Linked DNA regions of Homo sapiens: regions 1 and 2 are each linked to region 3. Evidence: fine-mapped expression QTL. A gene starts in region 3. Each other region holds a variant in brackets. All regions are shown on one strand. Distances are from middle to middle.

Region 1 (8,541 bases), 770 kb after region 3:
AGTGACCATCTGCGAGCCAAGGAGAGAGGCCTCAGGAGAAACCAAAGCTAACAACCCTTCTAGCCTCCAGAACTGAGAAAATTTTCTGTTGGTTAAGCCACTCAGTCTGTGATATTTATTATGGCAGCCCTAGCAAACTAGTGCAGAGTGGGAGTTACAGTATCAAAATAAAATATTTAGGAAGATGCATTTATAAGAATCCGGAAGTTTGAGAGTACAGGAACCGGACCGGATAGGACAGTTTGTCCTGTCAGCTCCTGAGGTCAGGGATGGCTCAATTTCCTCTGAATCCTCAAAGCCTTCAGGTAGCACAGTGCCTGAAATGGAATGTGTCCTCAAGAATTATGTGGTGGGTCTGGGCACCGCACTTTGAGAACTAATGATTTAAGGTGTTTGTAGGGATGTGAGGGATAAAGGGCCAAGGATGCCTTGGAAATCTAGAACATAAATGCCGGGTACATGGCAGGTGGTGAATTACAGTTTGTTGAATGGACCAACGAATCTAAAATTCTATAGCTATTTGCTTAACAAATGAGTGTGGTAGTGTGGAGAGGAAAAGGGGAGATTACATGATCTAGAGGGAGAAAGAGGGCAGCACACTTTTTGGAAAACAAAGTCTGCTTTCAAGATCTGGTTTTGCCCCTTATCAGCTGTGGATTTAGTTCTGCTGAGCCTCAGTTTCATCAGTAAGATGGGGATAATGATGTATAGATTTATGGCAAATAAATAAATAAAGAAATTGGACTAAATGAAATTACGGGAATAAAATCTTTAATAGGGTATTTGCAACATAGAGGTGAAGAAAACATGAAGACTCATCATAAAATCAGTTGGTGATATTTTGAGGGGACTATCTCAGGTGACATAAGTGGAAATGCAAATTTAAATTAAGAGAGGTAAGTGTAAACTGCAGGCATGTTTGGGAGCTTTTCATTCATTCAACTAGCATTTAGTGAGAGCCCGCTATTCCAACTAACGGAACTGGACAGTAAATATTGCCTAATATATCTGAGGGGACGAAGATCCAGATCAATAGAAAATGAGATCAGGCATAATTGTTCAGTACACTATGGCTTCCGAGTGTGCGGTTCTTCCTATGGGCTAAAAAGGATCCTACGCGTGCCTATTGGAAATAATCTTGGAAAACTAGCGACCTTGGGCGAATAAAACTGAAGTACCAAAATAACCCGCCTGGGGAAAGAAATTAGGAAATTCCTGTGGAAGCTGGCGCGCCGTTGCACTTCGTCGTCTTCTTAGCGCAGTGAGCAGCGCGTCAGTCTCATAATCTGAAGGTCCTGATGTTCGAGCCTGAGAAAAGGCAGCTTTTGCAAGGAACGCTTACCTTCCCGGTACTTGTTATAGCTGTAACCCATATTCCCTTTACAGCTGGGGTATAATTCCTTCTTTTCTGAAATATCAAGCAAGTGGAATCGTGTCGGGCCCAGAGCTTCTGTGGGTGCTCGTTTGACACGCGCTCCCGGCTCCGCGCAGTGGCTGTTTCTGGATGAGTCTGGAGACTCCGCCTGCAGTCCTGTGCTGGCTCCACCTTGGCAGGGATGGAGCTCAGGAATGTTGAGTGGTCCCGAAAAACCAGGTGGAACACAAGACTTCTAGTCCGGAAAAATCCCCCACATGCCTCAAATAGCCAATAGCGGGGTAGGGGGCTGAGGTTAGCGGAATTTGTAACCCGCTCACTTGGGAGGCAGCGGCCTGCAGGGTCTGCGTCCGCATCCTCCGGCTTTGCTCCTTTCTTCCCTCTGGGTGGGCAACAGTCGCTTCCCAGTTGATCATCTGAGAGCTGTACGCCTGGGTGTAGATGTCGAATACATTGATCTTCTTATTTTTATCTGTTTTTATTTTTATGGTACACAGACGACAGGGAATCATTGGGCATCTTTGAAGTATAAATAAATCAGGTCTGTTTTTCCCCAAAAGGTTCCCATGGCAGGGGCTGGGTATACCTTGACCGACATCCAACAGACTCTATGTAGGCAATGAGGGAAAACCAAGGAGTGACGAGGGGCGGGAACTCCGAGCAGGTGCTCAAAGACGAAGAAAATCTGTGCTGGGCTGGGGTGGTCACTTTCTTCTCAGAGATGCAGAGTGCTACACGGCGAGTGGGAGGGTGGGCTCCCACTCCCTGTTACAGGAGCCGCTTGGAACTGGGGATTCAACCTGGGAAACAAGGAAAGCCTAGAGAAGCTAAGAAGAGAACCTAGAGAAGCTAAGAAGAGAAGCTAGAAGCATGAACGAGAGAATTTTGGGGAACAGATCCGGGCTTGGAGGGGAGACTGCGAAGCGCCAGTCAGCCTAAGGAAGGTTCTGATACCCAGTGGAATTTATAGAAAATGAATTCGGAAAGAGAGAAAGAAAGAGAGTGGTGGGCAGTCTGTCCTTAACGAGGCGTTATGTCCGCCTGCCAAGGATCCCATCGTCACTGGTCCTGAATCTATATTTCATCTGTAACGCCAGTCCTGAACAATAGTCTCAGAAATCCTTCAAACTCATGTGCCACACACAGAACCCGAGACAGTTTTTTCTCTTTTGTTATAGAGGCTCCTTGAGAGAGAAATGAATGTACAAAAATATCTCAGCAGAAAGTACTGAAAAGCCATCCCACCCCATCCATTCTCAGAGACTAAAATCAAGCTAGTCAGAGGAAGGGATTTACAAAGCAGGACTGCACTGTGGGACAATCCCTGCATTTTGGCTTTCCCTCACACCCTCTTCAAATTGAGCCCAAGCCCCACATTCTGAGGATGATACTCAGGACGTGAGGGGGCTCTGAAAAAGGGCTGATCCCTCCGCAAACTCAGGGTGATGCGCACAGCCTGGAGGAAATGAGAAAATTATCACAAGTCTTTCAGATTCACAAATGCCATATTCCCTTTGTTTTAAGGCCACGAAGATCAAGTAAGGACCCAAATAACTACCAAACATCTCAGAGAACGCTTTGGGCAAGAGTGCGGAGACAATCAATTGCCTTGTTCCCATTACAGTTTGCAGTTATTAATTTCATGGAAGAGAGCACGTCACACCTGGGGCAAGACACAGTAGGAACTGCCAGATTAAGTAGCACAGATATCCCGGAATGTTCTGCGGCTCTTGTATTTTAAGGAAGTTATGATTACTGACTGACTGTTGATGAGTCAACAGTTGATGAGGAGGAGGTTTTGGGGCTGGCCATTCCAGGCTCCACGTTCACACCACGGCACCACCATTCCTAGGGTGTCTAGACATGTATACTTGCAAAAATCATGTATATAGAGAAAATGATGTATTTATATGTGAGAGCACTTTTAAGTTTAAAACTTTCAATAAAGACTTTTTTTTTTTTTTTTTGAGAGTGCAGTGGTGCGATGTCGGTTCACTGTAACCTCCACCTTCCAGGTTCAAGCGATTCTTCTGCCTCAGCCTCCCGAGTAGCTGGGATTACAGGCGTGCACTACCACGCCCAGCTAATTTTGTATTTTTAGTAGAGATGAGGTATCGCCATGTTGGCCAGGCTGGTCTCAAACTCCTGGCCTCCAGTGATTTTCCCCCGCCCCCCGGCTCGGCCTCCCACCGAGCCTGGCCTAATAAACACTTTTTTAAATTTTATCATTTTAATTAAATATTTCAGACTTTAGATAGGAAAGGGAATGAGATAATTTTTGTTCGTTTTTCCAGGTTGCTGAACAAAATAATTACCAGAAAGAAATCAAC[AT/A]TTAGCTTTAATTTTTGATGCTACAAGACCCCTCTGGAGACAGTGTTCACGCAGTATCTGGAGAGTGTTGTTTAGGCTCCTGCTTCCTCACGCAGTCCCCTCCAACAATACTGTTGGTCCATTGTGCTTCCCACTGTCCTTAGTCCATCTCATCCATGAATAGGCCATCAGCTCCCCCAGACCAGCAGCGGTGGGCTTTCCTTTGAAATCTGGAGGGTCTGGAGGGCTGCACAAACTTCCCTCGACTTCGTTATCTCAGAGCATTGTGATGGAAAAGAAACATCCCATGCAAGTGGACAGCACTAGGTTGTGAACTGGAAGGAAGGTTGGAAAGGAGAGATACCCATTACACATTTCACTTTCTTGAACTCAGCAGCAGAGATAAGGATGAAATCAATAGCTTGAGAGAACTAGGACATTTTAGGGCCGTGTTTTGCATGTGTGTATGTACTTGTTGTTAATAAATTGGTAATAGATCATAAATATGATCTAATATTAACTTTTTTTTCTGATTGTCACCCATACAAAAAAAATTTCTCTTAATGGCTGATTATAAATAATAAAGTAAAATCTACAGATTTTTATGTTTTTTAAGACTCTTTTCATCCATAAAAGGTCCCTGGTCTTTCTTTTATGGATATTATTTTTTTAAATTGATAGACTTTTTTTTTAAATTGATAGACATTATTTTTTAGAGAAGTTCTGGGTTTAAAGAAAAATTGATCAGAATAGATAGAGTTTCCATAAACTCCATCATTCTCCCTCTCTTACAATTTTCCCTATTATTAACATCTTGCATCAGTATGGTACACTTGTTACAACTGGTAAACCAGTAATTAGTAATACATTATTGTTAACTGAAGTCCACAGTTTACATTATAGTTTGCTCTTTGTGTTATACATCCTGGGTTTTTTTTTTTTAACAAATATATAATGACATATATTTATCATTATAGTATCATAAAGAGTTAATGCCAGTTAATTGTTGAAGGAACTGGGCCTTTTATCCTTAGAAACACCTCTATGTTGTATTTATTTCATTGTATCTATTTCCTGCCCCTTGACATGTTTTTTAATCTACTCTATTTCTTGTAAACTGGTAGTTACAAGTAGAGGCTCACTTAGATTCAGCTTCAAATCTTTTAACAAGACAATTTGATAGGTGGGCTTGTGCACTTTCCATTGCTTCGCTTTATGAGGTACATAATGTCTGGTTCTCCAACTTTTAGTCACCAATATTAGCACTAATGTGTGGTTCAGCTGCCGTTCATAAATACATGTATATATAACTCGTATACTTATGTGAATGTATATATTTATGTGTTGATAAATAAAATGATACACAAAAATTAGAAAATAACATTGAAAGACTGAACATAAAAGTAAACAAGAAGAGATTAATTCTCGAATGCACAGTTTAAAAAGAATCAAAAGTATATCTTCAAGCTCCTTAGAATATAATGAAAATGGGGACTTATAATGACATATTTCTAAGGATTCTGTAGAAACTGCTTTCTCATTTTAAATTACACCTTGAATACCCAAGTTACAAAACATTAGAAGAAATCAGTGCATTAAATATAAGAAGTAAGAAGAAGAAGAAGAAGAAGAAGAAGAAGAAGAAGAAGAAGAAGAAGCCGCCCGAAAAAAAAAAAAGAAAAAGAAAAAAAAAGAAAATAGAATGGTGAAGGAAACACAGGAATTAACTAGAAAATTGCAAAATCTGATTGGTCATTTGAAAAAGAAGTGTAAAATGGTCAGCCAAATGTAAAATAATAATAATAATGATAAGGGGATATGGAGAAAGCACAAAGAAAAACCAAAAACATTAGTGAATGCTATTATTAAGATTTTAGAAATGTGGCAGGATAATGTTTTTAAGTATTGCTCTGTCTTTGATCTCCCTGTTTCCTTATCTGTTCAAGGCAGTAACCGTATTTTACAGAACTTTAACTCTACACATGGGGATGAAGCGAGTTGAACACAGTGTACATAGACAGCGTTTCGGTACTCAGGAAGCTCCCACTCTAGGGGAGAGAAAAACAAACCAGTATCTTAAAGACATACTTTCTGGAGGAGACGATATTTGTGAAGATGTAGTAGGAACTGAGAGATCGTGTGGGCATCACTTTTAGCTGTACTTGTCTAAAGACGGGAAATTTGCATTAAGACCTGAGTAGCTAGAAGTGCCAAACCTGTGGCAGGAGTGGAAAAGATGGGAGGATGGAAGCAGGGGCAACAAGACTCTTACATGGGGAGCAGTAAAACACGTGCTTGGGGGAGGCGGCAGTTTCCTCTGATCTTCTCCCAGATAAGAGGCACAGATGTCGTCAACAGGAGAAACAACGGGGAATACAAACTAAGAGACATAAACCAGATAAGAAACTGGAGAATGCGGGCGTCGATCCCGCTACCTCTCGCATGCTAAGCGAGCGCTCTACCGCCTGAGCTAATTCCTCACTGAGGAGGCCCGCCACCCCACCCATTTTCCTGGTTATCAGGAGCCTGCCGGTACTTTGGGCCGCCAAATCCCTGGCAGGACAAGATTGAGGGCGGAGCTTCTCAGATACTGCCTTGGGCAAACTTCTACGAGCCTGAGAGTGTGAAGAATACGGATTTCCAAAATAGGTCATGAGGGAGACCTCTCTCCTCACTTCCCAATTTCGCCTTCTTCATCTCTCGGAATTAGAGAGCACGTTCCAGTTGGAGAAGCACCACCTGGAACTGCCTGGCTTGCGGGCACAGCTATTCCAGCCCGCTCTAGAGTTGTGATCCTCACCTGCTCCCTGCAGGCAAGGCCACCCGGAAGTAGCGGGGCAGCTTCTCCCAGCCCCAGAACTTCACGCCATACGCGCCTCATCTTCAATAGCACTTTCCTCCTGTAGGACTCAGAAAGTGATGGAGAACCTTGGAGGAGTTGAGAAAGAGAAAGCTTGTGAATTTTCATCTCAATCTGTGGATTCATTCCTGAAGCACTTCTTCAGCACCAGGCACAGTGGATGAGGCCAGTGATCCACACAGAAAGTGCCACAACAATAGCAAGTAATAGTACTGTGCAATTGCCGTCTAGGCCCTATTTTAGATGCTGTACACATATTAATAGTAATGCAGGTAAAATGCCTAGAAATAGTTTATAATCTTCATTTTTTATATGAAAAATTATGGAAAATTGTCACCACAGAGCTCAGGGATCTCTCAGCCAAAAGGAAAAACAGATGCAGGTTATACCGTGTCTGCTGTGTAGGTGCTTCTCCTGCCATTTCCCTTCCCTGTCACCTTCCTCCCCCCTTCTCTTGCTCCATTGGGCACCACACTTGTCCTTCTTATGCCTGTCTAGTTCTTCAATTCCCAGGCCCACAGAAGAAGGCTTCCCCTGTAGCCCAGGGGAGGCTACATTAGCTCCACTGCCTTGGAGTTGTAGTGGATTCCAAATCTGCTTTCCACCTGTGAAGAATTCTCATTTAAGACAGGAAAATAGTTATTTTACTCTGAGTATAACTAGCGTCAAGTAGGATTTTTGCCTGATGAAAATTTGCTGAATGGAGAAAGGCTATACAGATAATTTAGAAGCCTCAAAGGAGAGAGTGGCTTCAGATCAGTAAAGACTGAAGAAAGGATTAGAAGCTAGGGTCTAACAAACCCATAGAAATGTTTTTGCCTGAAAAGGAAATGTGGTTGGGGAAGAGTGGAGGGGCACTACTTTCAGAGTGATTAGTGGGTGGAGGCATGGCCTTCATGGACCTGCAGGTGGTTTGGGGCAGCTTCAGGTCCCTCCTTCACGGTCCCAGTTTATTAGGAGAGCACATCCTGAGAATGAAAGAGGCTGCTCCTATGGGACAAAAATTCAACAACATGTTTATTATTTATGACATTCATTTTTGAGATCATTTATGAATAAGAAGATAAAATAGAAAAACATGTAATCAATAACATTGTCTTTCTATTACGATTAACAAAGGGCAATGCTGAGAAGTCAAATGGTGTCAGAGAGAGATTTGAGTGATGGGAAAGAAAGAAGGATGGAAAGAGGGGCACGTCCCAGGGACCTACAAGAGCTTCCTGGAGTCATCTATCCAAAGACCACTCTCTCCAGCATTCTGAGCTCTGCTTGGGCCAGTTGAGCTAGTCAACATATGTGTTGTTAATACAGCGCCTCATGTAGTTTCTTTAAATAGGGGATAGTGTTGCAATTTCAAAAATACATTTTTTTACATTTTGGTTCATCTTGGAAATTAGAGGAAGACCTAGGTCCCCATTTATTTTAAGCACATTTTTGTCAGAACGAGCTTTCAGAGAGATGAATAGAAGGAATAAATGTCACTTTTCTTAGTGAGAGTGTATCCGACCACTAGAGTTAATATGCTAGCTCCCACCTTCACTTATACTCCTTCCTTACCTCTCTCCTTACCTCTCTTACCTACACAGGAGAGAGGTAAGGAAGGAGTATAAGTGAAGGTGGGAGCCTGGCCAACTCTCAGATAATCTGATAGAAGACACGTTTTCATCCTCTACCTGACCATGTGTTGTCAATGTGAATAAAAGCAAAAGGTTGGCACATTCAAGTCTCCTGCTTTTGCCTCCTGACACTATTTCTAGGCTGTTTCTCATATTTTGTACCCAAAAGGCTAAAGTTTGATTTCCCCACAAAAATACATTGTATTAACTTCGAGCTGAAGCCCCAAAACCTGTATTGGCAAAACTCACTTGTGACTAATCGCTTCCTTTTTTGCTTTCGCATGGAATACTATGTATAATTTCCTTAAAAAAAAAAAGATGTACATAACAAGATGAAACTGAGTTAAACAAAGAGCGGTAAATCCGCTGAAAGTATTTAC
Region 2 (8,541 bases), 100 kb after region 3:
AGCTGTTTAAAAATGTTTTGGAAAAATGTTATCTTTGCCCTTTTGATTTATTGTTTGACCTATAGGTTTATTAGAAATGTGTTGCTTGGCTGGGCGTGGTGGCTCACACCTGTAATCCTAACACTTTGGGAGGCTTAGGCAGGTGGATTGCCTGAGCTCAGGAGTTCGAGACCAGCCTGGCTAACATGGCGAAACCCCATCTCTACTAAAAATACAAAAAATTAACCGGGTGTGGTGGTGAGCGCCTGTAATCCCAGCTACTTGGTGGCTGAGGCAAGAGAATCGCTTGAACCTGGGAGGCAGAGGTTGCAGTGATCCAAGATTGTGCCACTGCACTCCAGCCTGGGTGACAGAAGGATTTTCTGTCTCCAAACACACAAAAAAGATATGTGTGGCTTAACTTCTAAAGGTTTATAGATGTTACATTTAGGTATTTAATTTATAAACATTTAGGGATTTGTATTATTTTTTGTTTCCAATTTAATTCCACAATAATTAGAGAACATATTTTGTACAGTTTTTTTCTTTTGAAATATATTAAATGTATAAAATGGTAGCAGGTCTGTTCTCTCTGGAGTTTAGTAGTGAAGACACAGTTGTTCTATTTTTTTATTTTCCTAGGGAAGTTGATTTATTTTGAGTTAATTTGTGGAATAGTATGTGGTTTTATTGAGCCTAGTTCTTCAGTGCAAAAGCAACTAGGGGCATGACATTTGTCTGACATAAAATTAATCAGTTCTTTATTTTTATTTCTTATAGATTCAGGGGGTACGAGTGCAGTTTTGTTACATGGGTATATTGTGAAGCTCAGATATCTGGGCTTTTAATGTCACTATCATCCAAATAGTGAACATTGTACCCAATAGGTTATTTTCCAACCCTCACCCATTTCCCAACCTCCCACCTTTTGGAGTTTTCAATATCTGTTTATTATTCCACTCTATATGTCCACGTGTACCCATTGTTTAACTCCCACTTAGAAATGAAAATTTGCAGTATTTGACATTCTGAGTTATTTCACTTAGGATAATGGCCTCCAGTTCCATACATGTTGCTTCAAAAGGCATGATTTCATTCTTTTTTATGACTCAGTAGTATTCCATGGTATATATACCATATTTTCTTTATTCAATAATCCATTGATGGACACTTAGGTTGATTCCATTCATTATCGCTATTGTCAATAGTGCTGCGGTAAATGTACAAGTGTAGGTGTCTTTTTGATATAATGCTTACTTTTTCTTAAGGTAGATACCAGTAGTGGGACTGCTGGATCAAAGGGCGGTTCTATTTTTAGTTTTTTAAGAAAGCTCCATATTGTTTTCCATAGAGGTTGTACTAATTTACATTTCCATCAACAGTGTATAAGTGTTCCCTTTTCTCTGTATCCTTGCCAACATCAGTTGTTTTTTGACTTTTTAATAACAGCCATTTTGACTGGTGTAAGATGGTATCGCATTGTTTTAATTTGAAGTTCTCTGATGATTAGTAATGTTGAGTATTTATGGGCCAGTTGTATGTCTTCTTTTGAAAAATGTCTGTTCATGTCCTTTGCCCACTTCTTAATGGGATTATTTGTGGATTTTTTTCTTGTTAAGTTCCTAGTAGATTCTGAATATTAGTCCTTTGTCAGATGCATAGTTTGCAGATATTTTCTCCCATTCTGTAAGTTGTCTGTTTATTCTCTTGATTATTTCTTTTGCTATGCTTAAGCTTTTAAGTCCCATTTGTCTATTTTAGGGCTTTGTTGCATTTGCTTTTGAGGACTTAGTCATAAATTTTTTGCCTAGGCCATTGTCCGGAAGGGGTTTTCCTAGGTTTTCTTCTAGAATTTTTATAGTTTCAGGTCTTAGCCTTTAATCCATCTTGAGTTATTTTTTGTATATGATGAAAGATATGGGTTCAGTTTTATTCTTCTGCATATGGCTGTCAAGTTTTATCAGCACCATTTATTAAATAGGGTGTCCTTTCCCCAGTGTCTATTTTTGTCAATTTCATCAAAGATCAGTAGTTTGTAGGTATGTGGCTTTATTGCTGGGTTCTCTATTCTGTTCCATTGATCTGTGTGTCTGTTTTTATACCAGTACATGTTGTTTTGGTTACCATAGCCTTATAGTATCAACATTAATCAGTTATTAAAGAATAGGAACTGGGTTGTCTAGAATCTTAACCATAGTGTTCTTACATACAGTTTAATTACCATGGAGAGTCTAATAATTTGCCTGTTCAATAAGGTCCTCTGTCAGTGCTTTTGATACAGATTTTAGTTTTCTAAAATTTGCCTGAATTTAAAAAATTTTGAATCTAGTTTTAGCCTTTTGTATTTTAACTAGAAATAGATAAAGTGCAGATAATACTCAAGTATTTTGAGATGATAGAACATCATTATGTCATTTGCATCTTTATTGAAAAGTATCTTTTAGTGCTTATTTATACGTTGGTTATTTTATAATTCCTGCAATAAAATGCAGCAATGGTATATTTAGAAAATACTTCTGAAAGACTTTCTATTTCTTTTTATCTAATTTAGAGTTCATTGTCGAAATGCTGGACCTGTAGCTGTAGCTGAGAAGAGCATTACCCAGGTTGCAGAGAAATTCATATTAAGAGGTTATTGTCCAGATTGCAATCAAGTCTTTGTGGATGAAACCAGCACCCAAAATCATAAGCAGAATTCAGGACACAAAGTCCGAGTCATTAACTCAGTGGAAGAATCAGTCTTACTCTATTGCCACAGCAGCGAAGGGAACAAGGATCCTTCTTCTGACTTGCATTTATTGTTGGATCAATCAAAATTTTCATCACTTAAAAGAACCATGTCTATTAAAGAATCTAGCTCACTGGAGTGCATTGCCATTCCAAAAAAGAAGATGAATTTAAAAGATAAAAGCCATGAAGGTGTTGCTTGTGTCCAGAAAGAAAAATCAGTAGTTAAAACCTGGTTCTGTGAATGCAATCAGCGATTCCCAAGTGAAGATGCAGTAGAAAAGCATGTTTTCTCAGCAAACACAATGGGTTATAAATGTGTGGTCTGTGGAAAGGTATGTGATGATTCAGGGGTCATTCGTTTACACATGAGCCGGATTCACGGAGGGGCACATTTAAATAACTTTCTTTTCTGGTGTCGGACATGCAAAAAGGAGTTAACAAGGAAAGATACTATCATGGCACATGTGACTGAATTTCATAATGGACACAGATATTTTTATGAGATGGATGAGGTAGAAGGTGAAACTTTGCCATCATCCTCTACAACATTGGATAATTTGACTGCTAACAAGCCTTCATCAGCTATTACTGTTATTGATCATTCCCCGGCAAATAGTTCTCCGAGGGGTAAATGGCAATGCCGGATTTGTGAAGATATGTTTGATTCCCAGGAATATGTAAAACAGCACTGCATGTCTTTGGCAAGCCACAAGTTTCATAGATACAGCTGTGCTCACTGCAGAAAGCCTTTTCATAAGATAGAAACATTGTACCGACATTGCCAAGATGAGCATGACAATGAGATAAAGATTAAATACTTCTGTGGGCTTTGTGATCTTATCTTTAATGTGGAAGAAGCATTTCTGAGTCATTATGAGGAGCACCACAGCATAGATTATGTATTTGTGTCAGAAAAAACTGAAACTTCAATTAAAACCGAAGATGATTTTCCAGTAATAGAGACCAGTAACCAGTTAACTTGTGGTTGCCGTGAGAGTTACATCTGTAAAGTCAACAGAAAAGAAGATTATAGCAGATGTCTCCAAATCATGCTGGATAAAGGAAAACTGTGGTTTCGCTGCAGTTTATGTTCGGCAACAGCACAGAATTTAACCGACATGAACACTCATATCCATCAAGTGCACAAAGAAAAGAGTGATGAGGAGGAGCAGCAGTATGTAATCAAGTGTGGCACCTGCACCAAAGCATTTCATGATCCTGAGAGTGCACAGCAGCATTTCCATAGAAAACATTGCTTCTTACAGAAACCCAGTGTGGCTCATTTTGGATCTGAAAAATCAAACCTGTACAAGTTTACTGCTAGTGCCTCACATACAGAGAGAAAACTGAAACAGGCAATAAACTATTCAAAAAGTTTAGACATGGAGAAAGGAGTTGAGAATGACCTAAGCTATCAGAATATAGGTATGGCTTTATAGCTCTATGCAAATTTCATATACTGATATTGAAACTTACAATGTACCCACCTCGATTCAATTTTGAAGCAAGAAACAGGGTAACTTCTTGATGGTATGTTAATTATTATGGTATATACATTTTAGGGGTTTGTATTCCTACTACTACATTTATCCACTTTCTAAACTTACGAGGACAGAGTATATGTTGGCTTTAAATAATATATATTTTAGATATCATTTTATTTTACAAAAGGTGTGGAGATTTTGAAGATGAAGGAAGTTGATAGTTTTTCTGAAAGTTAGATTTCAAAGTTATCCTAGTATTAATATCATTTAGATTTTTCTTGTAATATTTGGGTTAACTAAAAAGATAAATCACGTGAATTCTTTTTGTTTCTATTTGGCCATATTCTTTAGTGTGAGACATTTTAAAGGTCATTTCAGCATTTGTATATTTTTGTTATGATTAACTTGGAAGAAAAGCTTTAACATACAATTAAAATAGCAATTAGAAGTAGAGTTAAAGTGGTAGCAGGAAACCAGGGGGAAAATTGAAATATGAATTCCTTGTTTGTACTTACTCCAGACTTTCTTTCTTCCATATGATAGGATTAAGTAAGTCTAGGCAGGTGTTATGTTTTTATTTTGTTTAGAAGTATAATTTGTTTTGTTTAGAAGTATAATTTGTTTTTGTTTAGAGTATAATTTTAAGTGTATCTTCTTTTATTTGTAAAATTTTTTTGAGATGGGATTTTACTATGTTGCCCAGGCTGGTTTTGAACTCCTGGCCTTAAGCAATCCTCCTGTTTTAGCCTCCCCAAGTGTTGGGATTACAGGTGTGAGCCACCACACCTGACTTAAGTCTATATTCTTTTAAATAAATACTAATTCTTGGTGAGTTATACAATGTAGCATATTTGGGTACAGTGAGAATATGTGAAAATTTTGGCCAGTAATGTATTTTTATGAACTATTGAATTTTTA[G/C]AGTCTTGCTCTATACCATATGTAGATTTCAACATCACCTTTAGTCATGGCATGTTTTCAGTGGTAAAGAATTAAATCATGAGCTACCTAGTCAACTCTAAACAGTGAAACACTGGTTACACCATTTTATGTTAGGCCTTTCTTTTGCGCTTCTGTTTACTTTTTTTTTGGAATTTGTGTTAGTCTGTGTTTGATAGAAAATGCAATACCTAAATCTAGAATTACCGAGAAGTTAGAGAAAAGACGTAAGGTGGCTTGGAAATGGAAGGGAATGGCAGTAGTATATTTGAAGGAACTATTAGAATAGAAACTATTCATTTTTTAAATAATATAACATTTTAAAGTTTGCATTGTTACCACAGGAAACTTTAAGGCCTTGTCAAAGTGGAAAAGTATGAAACAAGATAAAGGGGAGGGAGAATGAGAGTTGGGGCATGGGGGAAGGTGAAAGAAGAATCTGAGAGAACCAAGAAGATGTGTTTATAGGGGGAGGTGTCTCTGTACCACTGGCACATATTTCTAGCACTGCTTTATGGCAGCAGGATTCTAGGTTATCTTATTTCTGCTCTCTAGGGTGTTTAATCCTAGAACTAGAGGGCTACTAATAAATCAGTCCAGACTGGGAAAAGAACCAAATTCTGGTGGTGAAAATGTTCTTAATAGGTAACCTTGGAATTTTATATGGGTGGTATTAGTTTTTGCTTATTTAACCTTAAAACTTGGTTTTCTAGTTCTTCTAGTACATTAATTTTTTAAAAAAATTCCTTGTATAAGTGACTTTTTAACAAGCTTTAGAGTTGTTGGAAGAAAATGTTTGCAAGAAGGATATATAACCAAAATTGGTGAAATGTTCAGATTATTTTTATCTGATTTAAGTGTAAATGGTGTCATGTACAGATTTGGATTTCACAAAAAGGTTTAGATAGAAATGAGTAACATTCAAGGTTAGTATTTTTGCATATTAGGCTTCTAATACTTTTTGGACTTGAAATCAGAATGATTTTAGCAAATTCTTACTGAACTCATGTTGATATTTCTCTCTTCTCAGAGGAAGAAATTGTTGAGCTTCCAGATTTGGATTACCTGCGAACCATGACTCATATAGTCTTTGTAGATTTTGATAACTGGTCAAACTTTTTTGGTCATCTACCAGGGCATCTAAACCAAGGAACATTTATTTGGGGCTTTCAAGGTACGGTTAATAAGAAAAACAAAAGAAAACTTTTTCCCACCTCTTAGAATATAGTTCAGTTTAAAAGGCTCCTCTTAAACCTTCCTGGATAGAACATAGGAACATAATTGGAATATTGTTCTTTTGTATTATAGTTACTCTGCTAGAATCGTTTTCTTTACATGCCTCTGTGGTAAATGTTAGCTCTATCTGGTGACTCAAAGTTTATGGATCTTTTGGCCGGGCGCGGTGGCTCACGTCTGTAATCCCAGAACTTTGGAAGGCTGAGGCGGACGGATCACGAGGTCAGAAGATCGAGACCATCCTGGCTAACATGGTGAAACCCCGTCTCTACTAAAAAGAAAAAAAAAATACAAAAAATTAGCTGGGCGTGGTGGCGGGCCCCTGTAGTCCCAGCTCCTTGGGAGGCTGAGGCAGGAGAATGGTGTGAACCCAGGAGGCGAAGCTTGCAGTGAGCTGAGATCGCACCACTGCTCTCCAGCCTGGGCAACAGAGTGAGACTCTGTCTTAAAAAAAAAAAAAAAAAAAAAAAAAAGTTTATGGATCTTTTGATACAGATTGAAAAAGCCTTTATTCAACACCTAAAATGTGTCAGGTGCTTTGGCTTTGTACTAACATGGTTACTGATTATTATGGTTTTATCCCTTTTAAAATACAAAGAAGCAGATGTTTTGTTTTTGTTTTTGTTTTTTTTCCCTCAAAGTTTTAAAACTAATAAATAGCAGAATTATTTGGCCTCTCAGCTATAGGACTAATGTTATTTTCAACATGCCATAACTGCCTCTTCGGTTCATCCTTGCTGTTCTTAAGTGTTCAGCTTCATCTAAACCTCTTTACAAATTGTTGACCAAACTTGGGGGAGAGGCTTCTTTGGTTTACAGAGAATCTGCTATTGTTTGTGTTTGATAGGAAATAGCATGTAAAGAGAAAGATTGGGATTAAAGATAGAAACATACTGACCTGGATAAGTTAGCCAGTATAATTGCTTTAGTAAGTTGAGCTTTGGTGATTGCCCATCATTTCTGCATTGAACGGTGGTGACATCTGTAAAAACCACTTATGCTTACACTTATAGAATAATGCCATTCAAAGAATTTTTACACACATTGCTTTTGATTTTGCCTAATATCCATGTGAGTTTTAAGATGAGTTGACAGATTCAGGGAAGTTGGTCCACTTTCTCAAGACTTTAAAGCAACAAGATGTTGATGCTTATGCTAGGATGGAGTTCTTCCACATTCTGATCTAGTACTTTGCCTCTAGAAAAATTTTTTTCTAGTATGTGTTTTTTCTTGATAAAATTTTTGGCCTTTCCTCTCCTGTTTGATTATCATTTTTGCCTTTTCTAAAATTAATAGGAGGAAACACCAATTGGAAGCCTCCGCTCAACTGTAAGATTTATAACTACCTGAACAGGATTGGATGCTTCTTCCTTCATCCTCGCTGTAGTAAAAGAAAAGATGCTGCTGATTTTGCCATATGTATGCATGTGAGTCATTGTTTTATTCAAAATCTAATGTGAATCTCAGACCCACTTGCATTTTTTTCCCCACTTGAATTGTAATGAGACTTATAGATCATTCTTCAGTACTTCAGGTTCTACCTATGACTATTATGAAGGCAGGACCCCATAGCATATTTTTATTGCTTTATCCTCAACTTCTAGCAAACCTTCAGCTATCCATAGTAGACCCTCAACTATTTGTGGGATAAATGATCAAGAGCTGATACTGTTTTTTGGGTTTGTTTTTGAGACAGTCTCGCTCTGTCACCCAGGCTGGAGTGCAGTGGCGCAGTCTCGGCTCACTGCAACCTCAGCCCCCTGGGCTGAAATGGTTCTTGTGCCTCAGCCTCCCAAGTAGCTGGGACTACAGGAGCATACCACCATGCCCAGCTAATACTTGTATTTTTAGTAGAGACGGGGTTTCTCCATGTTAGCCAGGCTGGTCTCAAACTCCTGGCCTCAAGTGATCTGCCCGCCTAGGCCTCCCAAAGTGCTGGGATTACAGGTGTGAGCCACTGCGCCCTGCTGATGATACTGTATTTGATATATATTAAGACACTTTCATATTTTAATATCTCTAAAATTAAGAGGTACCTTAACAATCACTGTTGGCCTAGACAGAATTTGCATTTGCTTCTGTCTCTGCTGGGTACCTAGAGAAACTGCCAAACTGAGACCCACTTTAAATTTTCTGCTTGGGGACTTACATGTCACACTGATAATGTGAATTTACT
Region 3 (8,541 bases):
TGTGAAGACAACAATAAATACCCAACTCTTTGATGCCAAGACAGTGATGAACGTACATAAGAATCAAGATCACTTTGGAAAATACAACCTCACTAAATAAACTAAATAGCAGGTGCCAATCCCAGAGAGACAGAGATATGTGACCTTTCAGACAGAGAATTCAAAATAGCTATTTTGAGAAAACTCAAAGAAATTCAAGCTAACACAGAGAAGGGATTCAGAATCCTATCAGGTAAATTTAACAAAGAAATTGAAATAATTAAATAGAATCCAGCAGAAATTCGGGAGTTGAAAAATGCAATTGACATACTGAAGAATTCATCAGAGTCTCTCAGTAGTAGAGTTGACCAAGCAGAAGAAGGAATAAGTGAACTTGGAGACGGTTACATGAAAATATACAGTCAGAGAGGACAAAAGAGAATAAAAAAGAATGAAGCACACCTACAAGACCCAGAAAATAGCCTCAAAAGTGCACACCTAAGAGGTATTGGCCTTAAAGAAAAGCTAGAGAGAGAGACAGGGGTAGAAAGTTTATCCAAAGGGTCCGGGCATGGTGGCTCAAGCCTGTATTCCCAGCACTTTGGGAGGCTGAGGCGGGTGGATCAGGTCAGGAGTTCAAGACCAGCCTGGCAAACATGGCAAAACCCTGTCTCAACTAAAAATACAAAAATTAGCCAGGCGTGGTGGCGGGTGCCTGTAGTCCCAGTTACTCAGGAGGCTGAGGCAGGAGAATCACTTGAACCTGGGAGGTGGAGGTTGCAGTGAGCCGAGATTGCACCATTGCACTCCAGCCTGGGTGACAGAGCGAGACTTTGTCTCAAAAAAAAAAAAAAAAAAAAAGAGAGAAAGTTTATCCAAAGGGATAATAACAGAGAACTTTCCAAAACTAGGGAAACATACTATTATCCAAGTACAAGAAGATTATATAACATCAAGCAGATTTAACCCAAAGAAGATTACCTCAAGGCACTTAAAATCAACTCTATGTTTAAGAGACATAGCTTAAAGTAATAAAAGCCATCTATGACAAACTCATAGCCAACATTATACTGAACAGGGAAAAGTTGAAAGCATTCCCCCCGAGAACTGGAATGAAACAAGGATGCCCACTTTCACCACTTCTGTTCAACATAGTACTGGAAGTCCTAGTCAGAGCAATCAGACAAGAGAAAGAAATAAAGGGCATCCAAACTGGTAAAGAGGAAGTCAAACTGTTGCTTTTGCTGATGATATGATCATATACCTAGAAAACCCTAAAGACCCATCCAAAAAGCTCCTGGAACTGGTAAATGAATTCAGTAAAGTTTCAGGATACAAAATTAATGTCCACAAATCAGTAGCTCTGCTATACACCAACAGCGACCAAGCTGAGAATCAAATCAAGAAATCAACCTCTTTTACAATACCTATAAAAATTAAATAAATAAATAAAATAAGGTACTTAAGAATACACCTAACCAAGGAGGTGAAGGACCTCTACAAGGAAAACTACGAAACACTGCTGAAAGAAATTATAGATGACACAAACAAATGGAAACACATCCCATGCTCATGGATAGAATCAATATTGTGAAAATGATCATACTGCCAAAAGCAATCTACAAACTCAATGCAATTCCCATCAAAATACTACCATCGTTTTTCACAGAACTAGGAAAAACAATCCTAAAATTCATAGGGAACCAAAGAAGAGCCCATATAGCCAAAGCAAGACTAAGCACAAACAAGAAATCTAGAGGCATCACATTACCCAACTTCAAACTATATACAAAGCCATAGTCATCAAAACAGCGTAGTGCTGGTATAAAAATAGGCACATAGACCAACAGAACAGAATAGAAACCCAGAAATAAAGCCAAATACTTGTAGCCAACTGATCTTCAGCAAAGCAAACAAAAACATAAAGTGGGGAAAGGACACCCTTTTCAACAAATGATGCTGGGATAATTGGTGACCCACATGTAGAAGAATTAAACTGGATCCTCATCTCTCACCTTATACAAAAATCAACTCAAGATGCATCGAAGACTTAAATCTAAGACCTGAAACCATAAAAATTGTACAAGATAACACCGGAAAAAACCTAGACATTGGCTTAGGCAAAGATTTCATGACCAAGAACCCAAAAGCAAATGCAACAGAAACAAAGATAGACAGGACTTAATTAAACTAAAAAGCTTCTGCACAGCAAAAGAAAAAATCAGCAGAGTTAACAGACAACCCACAGACTGGGAGAAAATCTTCACAATCTATACATCTGACAAAGGACTAATATCCAGAATCTACAAAGAACTCAAACAAATCAGCAAGAAAAAAAAAAACAACCCCATCAAAAAGTGGGCTTAGGACATGAATAGACAACTCTCAAAAGAAGATATGCAAATGGCCAACAAACATATGGAAAAAATGCTCAACACAGCTAATTATCAGGAAAATGTAAATCAAAACTACACTGCAAATCTACCTTACTCCTGCAAGAATGGCCATAATCAAAACATCAAAAAATAATAGACGTTGGCATGGATGTGGTGAAAAGAGAACACTTTTACACTGTTAGTGGAAATGTAAACTAGTACAACCATTATGGAAAACAGTGTGGATATTCCTTAAAGAACTAAAAGTAGATCTACCATTTGATCCAGCAATCTGACTACTAGGAAGAGGAATAACCACAGAAAAATAAGTCATTATACAAAAAAGATCCTTGCACATGCATATTTATAGGAGCATAATTCGTAATTGCAAAAATATAGAACCAGCCTAAATGCCCATCAATCAACAAGAGGATAAAGAAAATGGTGTATATACACATACATACACACACACACACACACACACACACAATGGAATAGTACTCAGCCATAAAAAGGAGCAAATACTGGTATTCACAGCAATCTGGATGGAACTGGAGACTATTATTCTAAGTGATGTAACTCAGGAATGGAAAACCAAATGTTGTATGTTCTCACTGATAAGTGGAAGCTAAGCTATGAGGACACAAAGGCATAAGAATGACACATAGGACTTCAGGGACTCGGGAAAGGGTGGGAGGGGGTGAGGGATTAAAGACATCGGGTACAGGATACACTGCTTGGGTTATGGGTGCACCAAAATCTCAGAAACCACCACTAAAGAACTTATGCATGTAACCAAACACCACCTGCTTCCTAAAAACCTATTGAAATAAAAAATACATTTTTATTTTTAAAAAATGTCCATACTACCCATACTACCCAAAACAATCTACAGATTGAATCCAATCCCCATCAAAATACCAATGACATTCTTCACAGAAGCAGAATAAACAATTCTAAAATTTATGTGGAACCACAAAAGACCGAGAATAATAGCAAAAGCTAACCTGAGCAAAAAGAACAAAACTGGAGGAATCACATTACATGACTTCAAATTCTACTACAGAGCTATAGTAACCAAAACAGCATGGTACTGGTATAAAAACAGACACACAGACAAATGGAACAGAATACAGTACCCAGAAATAAATCCACACACTTAGGGCATGGCTACACGGAGGAAGGGGTTTCTGAGCACAATACTCTGTGTGTGTTAACTTTGTAGTTTTGAAGTTAACAAGACCCTGGGCTCGCTATGCAGTCCGTATGTGATGTTGAACCCTTTACACACAGCACTAGACGGTTTTGAACCTATCAAAACACTGCTTCACTTAAATTTCACCAACTCCTTAAAATCCTAGTAAGTCTATGTTTTCCTTTGTTCCTATGTTCTCCTTTTCTCCCACTTTGTGGGTTGTCTGTTTACTCTGCTGATTATTTTTTTTGCTGTGCAGAAGCTTTTTAGTTTAATTAAGTTCAGTCTATTTATCTTTGTTTCTGTTGCATTTGCTTTTGGGTTCTTCATCGCGAAGTCTTTGCCTAAGCCAATGTCTAGAAGGTATTTTTCCGGTGTTATCTTGAGCAATTTTTATGACTTCGGGTCTTAGATTTAAGTCTTTGATGCATCTTGAGTTGATTTTTGTATAAGGTGAGAGATGAGGATCCAGTTTAATTCTTCTACATGTGGGTCACCAATTATCCCAGCACCATTTGTTGAAAAGGGTGTCCTTTCCCCACTTTATGTTTTTGTTTGCTTTGCTGAAGATCAGTTGGCTAATCAGATACCTCATAGCTCCTTTGTTGTATAATTTTGTGCATTGTAGATCAGGGTCAAAATGATAAAGGTGATTTTCTGGGACTACAGACTTGTCAATAACAGGTGGTCCTAGGCTGATAGAGGTAAACAAATAAAAGCTTTAAAAGAATATTCTCTGTTAAAATTTGCTTTCATAAATTTCATGTTTAAAATCATTTGTGAATAAATGTTAAAATAAAAAGGTGAGCCACGATTTTGGTAAGGCAATTTCTGAGCAAATCACACACAATTTTTTTTCATTCCCATTGATCTATTACATAGACGAATATTTGGTTGTGAAAAAGTGAGAGAAAGAACTCGGCTATTTTATTATAGTAGAGCAACACCGAAGGGAGACGACTTCGCTGTAGCTCAGAGTCTTTTTCCATTCTTCACCCACGCGCGGGGCAGTCGCGCGGCGCGGTCGCGCGGCGGGTAGGAACTACCATCCCAGCATCCTCTGCGGCGCGGGGAAGGAAGCCCGGGAATGAGAGAAAGAGGCTCCGGGGAGATAGCGGACCAGTGAGGGCTGCCCCTCTTTTGAAGCGGTTTTCGTCTCTTTCCGCCAGTGGCCTCCCAGCTCACGCAGGGGCGGGTCCCGGTAGCGCGAGGCGGTGCAGGGCGGGAAGGGGAGTGGTGGCGGCTGCGGCAGTAGGGACAGCAGGAGCAGTGGTGCTGTCAGCGCGGCCGTCGGAGACATGGGAGACCCGGGGTCGGAAGTGAGTAGTCGAGTGAGGGTCCTGGCGTTCTCAGAGGCGAACCGCGAAGGGTTTGTGTTTTCTGCGGTCTGAGGCCTGGTGCTCCGTCGCAGCCTCGGGGCGATACCTCTTCAGTGTCTTGGGCCGAGCCCAGCTCTGGGGCCTGGTGCGTGTCTGAGCGAGGAACCCGCAGCAACAATGGCCGCCCGGCCCCCCGCACGGGCCCTGGCGTTCGTTGTGGCCGCGGCTGGGCCAGTGGGAGCGACGTTTTAAGGCAGGATTGCCCTTCGGTGTTGAGCTTGCGTTCCTCCTGGAGTAGATAAGGGGAATTGTGAGAGGCTGGTAACTAACGCGTTTTCAGCGTTGGGTCCCTGCAGCTCCGCACACTCTGTGGCAAGAGCCAGAGCTCGAGTTCCGTTCCTAGTCGGGTTTCCGTGAAATTGTGCTCAGTTCGTTTTCCTCAAGAGCTCTCTGTCTTTAATTGTTCCTTTCGGAAACGCTCTCTTCCTACACGAATGTGGCTGAACAGATAAGCATGTTTTGGCTTGTTTTTATAGATAATAGAATCTGTCCCTCCAGCTGGCCCTGAGGCATCTGAGTCAACAACGGATGAAAATGAAGACGACATTCAGTTTGTCAGTGTAAGTAGCAATGATGATTGGGGTTTTCCCAGAGTAAAAGACTATGGTGGGCCATTATGTAATGTTACCTCACCTGGTCATTTAATGTTCATGAGTGTCTAATACATACTAGACACTGGAGCATGGCGCAGGATTGGGAAATTTACCAAAAGAGCTATCTGAGCCACCCCCGTAGCCATCACAAAGAGCACGTCCTAAAGAACGTGCTGTACACTTAATCTCGCCCCCTGCCTTTCATTTAAACTTAAGATAAAAACGCTGGTGTCTAAAACGCTGTTTTGAAATGGAGCAAGAGTAACTTCTAAAGGCGACACGGAGGAAGGAGCTGCTAATGATGAGCAAGGACGTAGAAAACAGGAAGGGTTGTGAGAGCCCAGAATCTTAGCGTTATGGTGCTTCTAACATGAAGGCAAATAGCTTGAAGATTTCTCTAACCTCTGAGATCATCATGTTACGGCATAGTACAGTTGATGCTCATAATGAAGAATCCTACATCACTGGGAACATGCTCTATTTTTCTGAGTTTGTTCCCTTTGAGACAGTAGTTTTCAAGCCTTAGTAAGTATAAACAGGCAGATTCCTGGGCCCCACTGCAGACCTACCGAATCAGAATTTCCAGGCGGGGGCCTAGGAATCTTCATTTTCAGACAAGTGCAGGGACATAAGGATTTCTGAGCACACTTTGGACAGAATGGGTTTCTAAAGCAGAAGGGAGTGTTTTATGATATATTTTGGGGTGATTTTCATCCATAATTGTTGGAGTTTTAGAAAGGCTTTGCGTAAAGTGGTATCTCAGCTCGCCAGGCAGAAAACAGTTCTGTCCCCAACTCGTCTTTTGGAATGCCGTAGTTAGTTGCAGTTTGGTATTCAGGCTGTAGAATTTTTCTTTAATGGAGTGTCTGTCTAATGTTTCTGTGTTTTTTAGTTTTTGTAGGTTTAGGGCGACTTTGTAAGTCACTTGTTTTTTAAATTAAAATTTCCTCCCTAAACATTGTTTTGTTAACATCGTTGTTTGTTTTTCGTGTTTTGTGTATAAGTTCTTTACCCTGTCACTTTCTGGACATATTTCCCAATTAATAGTGTGTGTATATTTTGTTCCTGACATTTGGAACCTTTCTAAATATTGATGATACCAAGGGAGATTGTATGCTGACTCTGCCTTCACTGTTGTTATGGAGTAAGCAACGTAACTTGAAATCAAAGAGCAATGGTTTCTGTTTTTGTAACGAGAAACATTTGGGAAGAGGAGTTCATGGGTCTTTAGGAAAAATAATTTTGGTTTCCTCTTAACTGGTATAAAAACAGGAATGATTGGGACAGATGATCTTGATGAGTTTTTTGTGCATCTGTATGTAGAAGTGACACACGTCTGATTGATGATCCATGTGCCATTGAGAAAGTATGTAGAAGTGACATACGTCTGATTCATGATCCATGTGCCGTTGAGAAACACAGATGGGATGTACAAAATTAAGTTTGGAAAAGTAAATAGGTATAGATTTGTGTAATATCCTGAGGAATAAATCATTATATTTTAAATTGTGAGTTAATATATAGGCTGTGTTTAGCTGAGGTTTAAAACTCTTACTTTAAATTTTATTTTAAATATAAAGATCCTTCTACATCTTTTCATACAATATTTTGTATATCCAGCGTGATAGAACCCTTTATATTTAACCCTGTTCAAAATAGAAGATCAAAGGTTTGACAGCTCTTATATGGAGAAGTGAATTACATGCTGTCAGTGTAATTGCAGTACCAGAAAGAATGTAGTAAAACATCCCTGTTGCATTTCAGTGGTGCCACATAAAAGACAATGATAACTTAATTCCACTTTGAAATACACTCAGAGACAACTTTCCTTTGTAACCCCATCCTATACTGGGCTCTACCAGGATATGCTTATTTCTCTGTGTTTTTTATAGTACCATCCAGTAAAGATGCAATGCTGCTGGGTATAGTTCTCTGCTTGTGGGTTCTTCAGATTAAAAGAAAAAAAAGTTTGTTACTTCTTGATATATTCTGGTTTGGATTCCTTAGTCTTTTCATATAAATGTTGATTATCTAGCCTTCATTCTGCGTTGTGGCACAGAATCCTCTTTGTGTTCTGTCATGTACCTAGCCTCCAAAATAAACAATATGCTGAAAGAAAGGAATGATAAAAGATTTGGGGATACAAAAAGAGTCCTTATCTTAATGTAAATTTTATTGAAATATAGTACCTATACAGGGAAGGTTACTTCCTCCTTGCCATCACTATTTTTGTACCACATTACCATTTGTCTAGATTGATTATCTTGTTTGTATTCTTCCCACATGCTCTCTTATGTGGTTAACCTTCTTGAAACAGCTCTAATAATGTTCCCATCTTGATGTTATTTATTGATTCCTTTGCCTACAGAATAAAATCTAGGATTTTGACTAGGGCATTTATGGCCTGGTCTATGATGAGGGTAGTGTATATGTAAAGAAAGGATCAAGAAGACTCAGAGTTTGATGTTTGGCTGTACAGTGATGTGGAGGATAAAGCAGGGTTATCAAAGAACTTCGAGATTACTGATAATCATTTCAGTTAAAAAAAATTGTACTATGAAATCTGTTATCTTTTTTTTTTAATGAGGTAGGGCCAGGGGGTGGGTTTTTCACTATGTTGCCCAGGCTGGACTTGAATTCCTGGGCTCAAGTGATCCTCCTGCCTCAGCCTCCTGAGCAGCTGAGACTGGCACTGTGCCTAACTGAAATCTGTATCTTTTTAAATCAATATCTGTGCTATTTCCCATTTTGAAAGGAATCTACATGGCTTTATTCCTCTATATAGATTTAGGCTCTTTGGGTTTTGTCATTATTATGTTTTTTTTTTTTTCCTTTTTACTAGCAGGAACAGTATTACGTATTCATGTACTCTGACTCTTTTCCCATGCCTCTTTTTTTTTTTTAGACAGTGTCTTGCTCTAAATTTTATCTAGGCTAGAGTGTAATGGCATAATTATAGCTCACTGTAGCCCCAACTTCCTGGGCTCCAGTGATCCTCTCACCTCAGCCTCCCAAGTAGC

The links.
Region 1: its variant is fine-mapped to the expression of KIAA1586 in hypothalamus (GTEx, PIP 0.93).
Region 2: its variant is fine-mapped to the expression of KIAA1586 in whole blood (INTERVAL, PIP 0.97).

The regions. Positions count from the first base shown.
Region 1 is chr6:57,807,398-57,815,938 of GRCh38, forward strand. LOC105375102 (a long non-coding RNA gene) reads right to left here. Exons shown (of 4, transcript XR_926901.3): 3 at 6,486-6,613; 4 at 3,744-4,020. Among named protein-coding and RNA genes, the nearest start is that of TRA-AGC24-1, 4.4 kb to the right of the region's middle. The variant AT/A (reference allele first, on the strand shown) is at 3,706.
Region 2 is chr6:57,144,560-57,153,100 of GRCh38, forward strand. ZNF451 (zinc finger protein 451) reads left to right here. Exons shown (of 15, transcript NM_001031623.3): 10 at 2,531-4,134; 11 at 6,160-6,303; 12 at 7,662-7,792. All of the region lies in intron 2 of ZNF451-AS1 (ZNF451 regulatory antisense RNA 1), which reads right to left. Among named protein-coding and RNA genes, the nearest start is that of ZNF451-AS1, 23 kb to the right of the region's middle. The variant G/C (reference allele first, on the strand shown) is at 5,112.
Region 3 is chr6:57,041,909-57,050,449 of GRCh38, forward strand. KIAA1586 reads left to right here and starts at 4,785. Exons shown (of 4, transcript NM_020931.4): 1 at 4,785-4,868; 2 at 5,405-5,488. The coding sequence starts at 4,848. RefSeq lists a silencer at 3,543-3,837 and enhancers at 4,467-4,556, 5,373-6,250.